Linked DNA regions of Homo sapiens. The protein of the gene in region 2 purifies or fractionates together with the protein of the main gene of each other region. This does not show direct contact. Each region holds a gene or a part of one and is shown on either strand. Other genes may lie near its edges.

Region 1 (4,622 bases), about 130 Mb from region 2:
TCTTCCGTCACCCCCAAATGGGACCATCTAGTTGCAGGAAAACAAGCTCAGGGCTCCCACTGATTCTACATTTTGGTGAGATATAATTATTTCATTATATATTAATAATAATAGAAATAAAGTGCACAATGAATGTAATATACTTGAATCATCCTGGAACCATCCCCCACCTCAGGTTCCTGTAAACATTATCTTCCACAAAACCAGTCCCTGGTGCCAGCATGGTTGGGGACACCTGGTTAACAGATGTGAGACCCCTTTGCCTTGTCTTGGAATAATGTGCAGATATGCATTGTGTGAATGACATCTGATGGCGCCATCTTGCCCTGTACATCATTTTAGGGACAGCTCCAGTATTTCATGAAAATTAAAATTTCTTCTAGTGACGAACAAAATGATACTCAGAAGCAATTTTGTGAAGAACAGAACACTGGAATATTACACGATGAGATTCTGATTCATGAAGAAAAGCAGATAGAAGTGGTTGAAAAAATGAATTCTGAGGTATTTTCTTTAGTTATTTTCAAATGTTTTTATATGTGTGTATATTTTAAAGAACTGTATTTTGGAAATATAAAGGATTTTTAAGTCATATATATGTGTGTATATATTCTATATATCCTTTGTCATATATCTATATACGTACGTATAGGATAAAGCCATGTTCTTAATTCACCTTCATTTGCCTGCAACAGTTGAGTAGTGACCTGCACAATGGCCTCAATCCAAAGGAGAAGTATTTGATGTTTTTCATAAGAATTGATGATCTTTCCACATCAGAAATAAGTTTTGCTACTGAAAACAGATTTTCTCGTTTTTGGACATTAGTTTTTTAAAAAATGTTAATAGAGAAGTCAATTGATTATTTTTACTGATAAGAAAGTAGGAAATGTATAGCTGGGTCAGAGGCCACATTGTGGATACCATTATCCTTACTTTTGCAGAGAGGAACAGTTTGCTCCAAGTAGTTTCTCATTTCAGTGTAAAGAGGTTTGAAAACAATGACATGCCATGATACACATTTAGTAATAATTTATTGATAAGTATTTTGTTTCTGGAGAAATAGTTCAGTATATTTCCCCTATTTCACCATTACTACTGTTTCAAACATTATAAAGAGGAAATAAAAGTTACCGCAATGGCAAATAATCTCATGATTTCTAAGAAGATCTCTATAAGTTGTATCTTATTTACCATTCATATTTTGAAACAAAAGGTTTCTTTTGTATTTATATATTTACACCACAGAAGTAAGTGTGGTTTTGTGGAGGATCACTAGAAGTAGCATCAGCAGACCTGGGGAAAATCCTGCATCTGTGTATATTTTTTGACCTCTCCTTTTAAGAATCGCGATCTTAAATGAGTTCAGTATTATATGTAGAAGAGCAATGCCTAGATACAGATGTGTACAGTGTAGAAGGGTACAGTGCTTAGATTTGACAGTTATAAATAAATGTAATTCTTATAACTGAGTATAGAAATATTAGAAATGTAGAATATCGGTAAAACGTTCTTCAGTAAAAGAAACTTAAAGAACTTTGAGAAATTGCTTCTGTCCAAATATATGCATAGCTAAGGCTCTTAGGATGGTGTGGTTGATAGGTTAGATATCAGAGTGTAAACCTAATCTTAAAAATGTAGTCAAATTATTAATCTTATATTTTATGCCTCTGGGTTTTTTGTAACTCAGAAAAAGGCTTTTTTAATTCTGGGATTCTTAAAAATCCTCTAGTGATTTATTTTTCATCGTCTTTAAATAAATATTTAAACTTTTAGGAATTTAGGAGCAGATTCCTAAAAGTTTAAATATTTATTTAAAGACGATGAAAAATAAATCACTGGAGGAATTTACACTCTTATTAGGTTTGAAGTTTTGTCCAATTTTTTTCCAGTTAAATATCCACTATGGGGATTCTTTCATTATACAAATACATGTTATTTTTGAATTTCAGAAGAAATCATGATATGTCAATCTATTGAGTGCTAACTAAAAGTTCTCTTTGTTTACTTAGCTTTCTCTTAGTTGTAAGAAAGAAAAAGACGTCTTGCATGAAAATAGTACGTTGCGGGAAGAAATTGCCATGCTAAGACTGGAGCTAGACACAATGAAACATCAGAGCCAGCTAAGAGAAAAGAAATATTTGGAGGATATTGAAAGTGTGAAAAAAAAGAATGATAATCTTTTAAAGGCTCTACAATTGAATGAGCTCACCATGGATGATGATACCGCCGTGCTCGTCATTGACAACGGCTCTGGCATGTGCAAGGCCGGCTTTGCGGGCGACGATGCCCCCCGGGCTGTCTTCCCTTCCATCGTGGGGCGCCCCAGGCAGCAGGGCATGATGGGGGGCATGCATCAGAAAGAGTCCTATGTGGGCAAGGAGGCCCAGAGCAAGAGAGGCATCCTGACCCTGAAGTACCCCATGGAACACGGCATCATCACCAACTGGGATGACATGGAGAAGATCTGGCACCACACCTTCTACAACGAGCTGCGTGTGGCTCCCGAGGAGCACCCCATCCTGCTGACCGAGGCCCCCCTGAACCCCAAGGCCAACCGCGAGAAGATGACCCAGATCATGTTTGAGACCTTCAACACCCCAGCCATGTACGTGGCCATCCAGGCCGTGCCGTCCCTGTACACCTCTGGCCGTACTACTGGCATCGTGATGGACTCTGGTGACGGGGTCACCCACACTGTGCCCATCTATGAGGGGAATGCCCTCCCCCATGCCACCCTGCGCCTAGACCTGGCTGGGCGGGAACTGCCTGACTACCTCATGAAGATCCTCACCGAGCGTGGCTATAGGTTCACCACCATGGCCGAGCGGGAAATCGTGCGTGACATCAAAGAGAAGCTGTGCTATGTTGCCCTGGACTTCGAGCAGGAGATGGCCACGGCGGCCTCCAGCTCCTCCCTAGAGAAGAGCTACGAGCTGCCCGATGGCCAGGTCATCACCATCGGCAACGAGCGGTTCCGCTGCCCCGAGGCGCTCTTCCAGCCTTGCTTCCTGGGCATGGAATCCTGTGGCATCCATGAAACTACCTTCAACTCCATCATGAAGTCTGATGTGGACATCCGCAAAGACCTGTACACCAACACAGTGCTGTCTGGCGGCACCACCATGTACCCTGGCATGGCCCACAGAATGCAGAAGGAGATCGCTGCCCTGGCGCCTAGCATGATGAAGATCAGGATCATTGCTCCTCCCAAGCGCAAGTACTCCGTGTGGGTCGGTGGCTCCATCCTGGCCTCGCTGTCCACCTTCCAGCAGATGTGGATCAGCAAGCAGGAGTATGATGAGTCAGGCCCCTCCATTGTCCACCGCAAATGCTTCTAGGTGGACTCTGACTTAGTTGCGTTACACCCTTTCTTGACAAAACCAAACTTCTCAGAAAACAACATGAGATTGGCATGGCTTTATTTGTTTTCTTGTTTCATTTTTTGTTTTGTTTTTTATTGGCTTGACTCAGGATTTAAAAACCGGAATGGTGAAGGTGACAGCAGTCGGTTGGAGGAAGCTTCCTCCAAAGTTCTACAATGTTGCCAAGGACTTTGATTGTACATTGTTCTTCTTTTCAATAGTCATTCCAAATATTGTGAGACGCATTGTTTCAGGAAGCCCCTTGCCCTGCTAAAAGCCATCCCACTTCTCTCTAAGGAGAATGGCCCAGTCCTCTCCCTAGTTCACACAGGGGAGGTGATAGCATTGCTTTTGTGCAAATTACATAATGCAAAATTTTTTGAATCTTCGCCTTAATACTTTTTAATTTTGTTTTATTTTGAATGATCAGCCTTCGTGGCCCCCCTCTTTTGTACCCCAACTTGGGGTGTATGAAGGCTTTTGGTCTCCCTGAGAGTGGCTGGAGGCAGCCAGGGCTTACCTGTACTCTGACTTGAGGAGAGTTGGATAAAAGTGCACACCTTAAAAAAAATTGAGGAAGCACAGTATTTCAGTACAGTGGACAGCTTAGCATGTTGACAACTGAGAATAAAATGCTCAGTTCTGAACTGGACAATGTAAGACACAACGAGGAAACACTGGAAATGGAAATTCAATTACGTCATTGTAGACTGGCTGCTGCTCTACATGATTGTGACCAAAGTCAGATAGCTGAAAGAGACTTCTTTCCAGAGAACAAGACATGAACAGGTTTATTTACAGAAGACAATGAATTCTCATTTATCTCACCTAAAAGAGAACAGATTCTTTCTCAACAAGTCTAATGTAGACAGTAAAATCAACAGGCTAAAAATTAAGCTCCACGAAACAAGATAAAACTCTGAGAGAAAAGACGGGGCAGGCCGCCATCTTTCCCGTTCAGGCAACTTAGTCATTCCAGCCTGCGGGCTTTGGAGAGTACAAACCGACGAGGGACAGAAGAGATCCCACAGCACAGCATAGCTGCTTTACCAAATCATGGCCAGACTGCTTCTGTAAGCAGGCCCCTGATCCTGTTCCACCTCACTGGACAGGACCTCCCAACTGGGGCCTCCAGCTACCCCCACCAGCATTCCTTGGCCAATGGAAATGTGAAATGTTCCTGGGACAGAGCTCCCGGAGAGGGGCAGGCCCCCACCTTTGCTCTTTTGGTGACTAGCCATTCTGGCCTGCGGGCTT
Region 2 (4,216 bases):
ATTTCTTTGCAGTACAATTTTGAGAAATAGGTTAACTCTATTTTAACTTAAAAGTACCCTAAAAATTATTTAATTGTTTATTAGTGAGTAACAGGCTCAAATACAGCAGTTTTTTTTTTCTTTTAGTATTGCTTTGCATCCTCTAGGCTTGAATGGTATAAACACTGTGTTTTGACTTCTTATTCAATTTTAGATTACCAAAGAAGATTTTGCCACATTTGATTATATACTATGTATGGATGAAAGCAATCTGAGGTAATCCTGTTTTTGAAGAATATTTCTGTTCAACTCTCAGTTCAGCAGTGGGCCAAGTAATTTGTTGTCCAGATTTACTTTTTCTATTTTAAAGGTTTTAATAGTCAGTGATGGTCACCATATGTAGAATTATTTTATTTAGAACAGCAAAAAACTTAGTAATCTAGAATTGTCTCTTAGGTATTTACAAGGAAATACACCTTAGAAAAGGGAAAGTCTAGTTGTTAATAGCATGATTTAATTGGAAAACTAGCTTGGCTGTTATAGTTTTGTATCAAGCATATTGTTCTGCATGAGAACGATTTTGATATTTTTGCTGTAATGATTCCTGGGCAGGGCAGTGTTTTATTGATTCTCAGGTCAAAGCTCTGCAACCATAGGTTCCTATTATTATCCCATCTTGTAAAAGAAGGAAGTGAGAAACGGTAATGTTAGGTTATGTCCCCGAGTTCACACAGCTAGCATGTGGTGGATGTCATGGGATTTAAGCCTAGGCTCAGTGAGGAAGGGCCCTGCTGTATGCACCCCTGCCTCAGTCACCACCCTCCTGACCTGCCCCAGTCCCATGTTCAAGGCGTCATCGGGAACGGATCATAATTTAATGTCACTCCAGGATTCTGACTTGCATCACTACTTATTCATAAATATCTCATGTTTTTGATGAAGATAAACTATTTGTGCTTTTAATTACTTTTGTACAAATGAACAGATAGGGATGCACCAGTTTCAATTATTTTTTATTAATTAGGACCTTCATTAAAATGCATGTATTTTTTAATTTTTATTTTTCAGTCCTTATTCTGTTCTCATTGTTTTTGCTGACACCATAGCCCATAGGCATCGTAAAAACACCTTTTTAGGAGACCCCATTTGCTTTGACTGGCACTGAGCACCGTGTTTCTTTGCGTGTGGGGCAAGTGGAGTTCCTGCAGCCTCACATTTGCACGTGCTGTTCCTCTGCCTGGAAGCTCCTCCTTGCTTCTTGGGTCATTCGGCTCCTATTTGCCCCTCGTGGGTCAGCTTAAATTCATTTCTTGATAGAGGTATTCTGCTGCCCTGTCATTAGGCCAGATTGTGCATTAGACTTAGGCCTGCCTGCAGTTCTCATTCCTGCACCTAATCCTGAGCTGTAAAACTTCGTGCATGGGAGCTCTTGGCTGTTCCGTTCCCACATAAAGCACGTACCTGACTCATCAACTCATCTGTCGCAGGTGCTCAGTCGAAATTTGTTAAATAAATGGAGGCGCTTAGTTAAGTTTGCCTTTTTCTTTTGTAGCAATGTGAAAGCTAAGGGTGGAAGTCTAGAGTGAAGCTGAGTTTTCAGCTTGGGCAGAGGCTTAAGGAATAAAAGATGGAAGAGTAATTAAGGAGTGGGTCGTGCTGTGGGAAGTGCTGTGTCAAGACACCTGAGGATGGAATTGGTAGCCCTCTGTTTTGGGACTGGTTCAGATGGTGTTTTGGGTTCCTTTCTATGACCTTTATCTCTGAAACTTGATTGTCTTAAAATGTATTTTGTGGGAGAAAATATAATTATTGTATATTTTGTGTAACAGAATCAGTGAGAATAAGCTGCTGTCGCAAACTGTCTTGCCTAGAGAGAGGGCAGTGGCATACAGCTGCAGAAGGGGCCACACGGGCCTGCTGAGTGTTCCGTTTCATTTCAAATTAGGTCATTCTGTCTTGATTTTGATATGGATGTTTCAGAACACCCTAGCAGATGTCCCTGTTTAACTTGAAACCATAGATCAGAAAACTAAGTTCATATTTCAATTTTACAGAGATTTGAATAGAAAAAGTAATCAAGTTAAAACCTGCAAAGCTAAAATTGAACTACTTGGGAGCTATGATCCACAAAAACAACTTATTATTGAAGATCCCTATTATGTAAGTACAGTTCACGTTTTAGGGCTAATATGAAGACCCAACACATTTGTATCCTGCCATATTAAATAACAGATGAGATTGTGTTAAGGATGTTTTTGTTATGCAGGTTTTGCCATTTTCTTCTTTTTCCTGTCCATTTAGGGGAATGACTCTGACTTTGAGACGGTGTACCAGCAGTGTGTCAGGTGCTGCAGAGCGTTCTTGGAGAAGGCCCACTGAGGCAGGTTCGTGCCCTGCTGCGGCCAGCCTGACTAGACCCCACCCTGAGGTCCTGCATTTCTCAGTCGGTGTGTAATCACGTTCCAGGGCCCAAAGCCCAGCTCTTTGTTCAGTTGACTTACTGTTTCTTACCTTAAAAAGTAATTGTAGATGGAAATCAGTTGTGTTTGGCAGGAGAATCAATAAAAATCTTTGATTCAGACAGCTTATGGGGTATTTTAAGCATTCTTAGACTAGTTGAACATCTCACTTTGCCCCAGTTACAAAAATAGTAGAACAAGCAACATAAAACAATGAAGGAAAACCTCACTTGAAGGCCCAGGTCAACATCTAAGCCTGTTGAGACTTAGATAATCGAGTCTACCTCTTCAGTAGGTTTGTGTGGATGGCCTGGAGGGCAGGTGCCCTCTGCTCCCCAGTGCTACCTCTCTCTTCCCTAGGGCCTTTTGTGGATTGACAGTAGTCCCCTCCGTAGGAGCTCACAGTCTAGATTAGAAGTGTTTTAATTTCTACACACCCATAGTGCACACTTGTATATTGAAAAGATAGGGAAGAGAGAAACATTTATGGAATCAGTCGTTGGCACCTTCAATACTTCATGATTTTTGTCGAGTTTACTTCATGAGGAGGTCAGCCCATTGGCTCCCATCTGAACCACTTTGCCTCTGAAACTTAATTACATCCAGAAAGAAGGACACTTGTATGCTAGTCTATGGTCAGTTGAGGAATATGACTGTTTTTATATGCACATGTAACCCAAATGTCCAATATAAATTGGCTTATTTTTTAAAATAATTTTAAAAGTTGGGAAAAGTGTTATTATTTGGCATGCTTAAATATTGAATAAGTATTCTTCATCAGCATTTAATAAATGTATAGGCAGATGTAAGGTAATTTCTGTGTATTTTGAGATAATGTCAAAATCATGAATATTTCAAAATAAACTGGGGAGTTATAAAAATACAACTAGAGATATAAATCTGGTGTCTGCCTGTTTTTTTATTGACAGGTAAGGAAGCATTTGAAAACATTGTATTGTCCTTTTTACATGATCTGTGATGTTAGGTGTGCATATTTTATCTTCAGGATAAGGAAGTAAAATGATGAAAATAAGCACATTGCTGCCCCATGTCATCATGTCTAGTTTCTGAAGGAAGTTTGAGGTTCTACAGCTGGAACTGTCCTTGCCCAGTACCATCCTCTGGACATGTTGCCTCTACGCTGTGCCCTCCTGTGCAGTGATGCACAGCTGCCTGGCCAGGACATCTGCACTCCTGACCTCAGTATCATGAGGGTCCCAGGCAGTGCCATGGGGAGGAGACACGTTTGATCCTTGACTCCCTAGTATCTGGAGGATAAGCTGTTGCCAGATGAAAGTGAGTAGTTTCCCCACTGTACCATGTGGAAGTGCCAGGCTGTCTTCATAGGAAGAAAGTTTGCAAACCCAGTGAGTCTTGCTCTTGTTGGAATTACTCAGACATACAGAAAACTGAGGGGATTAAATATTAATAGATTGGATATTTGAACATGAAATCCTTAAAACATAAAAAATGGGGAAGGAAAGGTCAAGTAATGAGCTGTAATTAGAAAACAGGATTAAATAAGAGCACTTCAAAAGTTACACCCTGTTCTCTTCATTCAGTAATTGCTTTTAATCTCAAAGTCAAAATTTCTTACTCTTCTATTCCTTTATGTTTGGAAATAAAATCCTATAGTTTTTCTTTAATGTTTATCTCTATAAATACAGATCCTCAAACAAATCCTAGGACTCTTGACTATTCTGTCCTTATGGCTACACCCAGACGATACCATCTGCCGACAAGGGCTCATATGAATGGAGAAACTCATTGCTTTGCCG

What was found.
Region 1: the proteins of ACP1 (region 2) and POTEE purify together in Homo sapiens (affinity purification with mass spectrometry; 2 studies listed by BioGRID and IntAct, with this or other methods). This does not show direct contact.

Annotation. Positions count from the first base shown.
Region 1 is NC_000002.12:131,261,343-131,265,964, forward strand, and holds the end of POTEE (POTE ankyrin domain family member E), read left to right. Parts: intron 1-383; coding exon 384-504; intron 505-2,012; coding exon 2,013-3,341; 3' UTR 3,342-3,936; downstream 3,937-4,622.
Region 2 is NC_000002.12:274,947-279,162, forward strand, and holds the end of ACP1 (low molecular weight phosphotyrosine protein phosphatase), read left to right. Parts: intron 1-193; coding exon 194-255; intron 256-2,033; coding exon 2,034-2,139; intron 2,140-2,280; coding exon 2,281-2,358; 3' UTR 2,359-3,337; downstream 3,338-4,216. UniProt on the Homo sapiens protein: Acts on tyrosine phosphorylated proteins, low-MW aryl phosphates and natural and synthetic acyl phosphates with differences in substrate specificity between isoform 1 and isoform 2.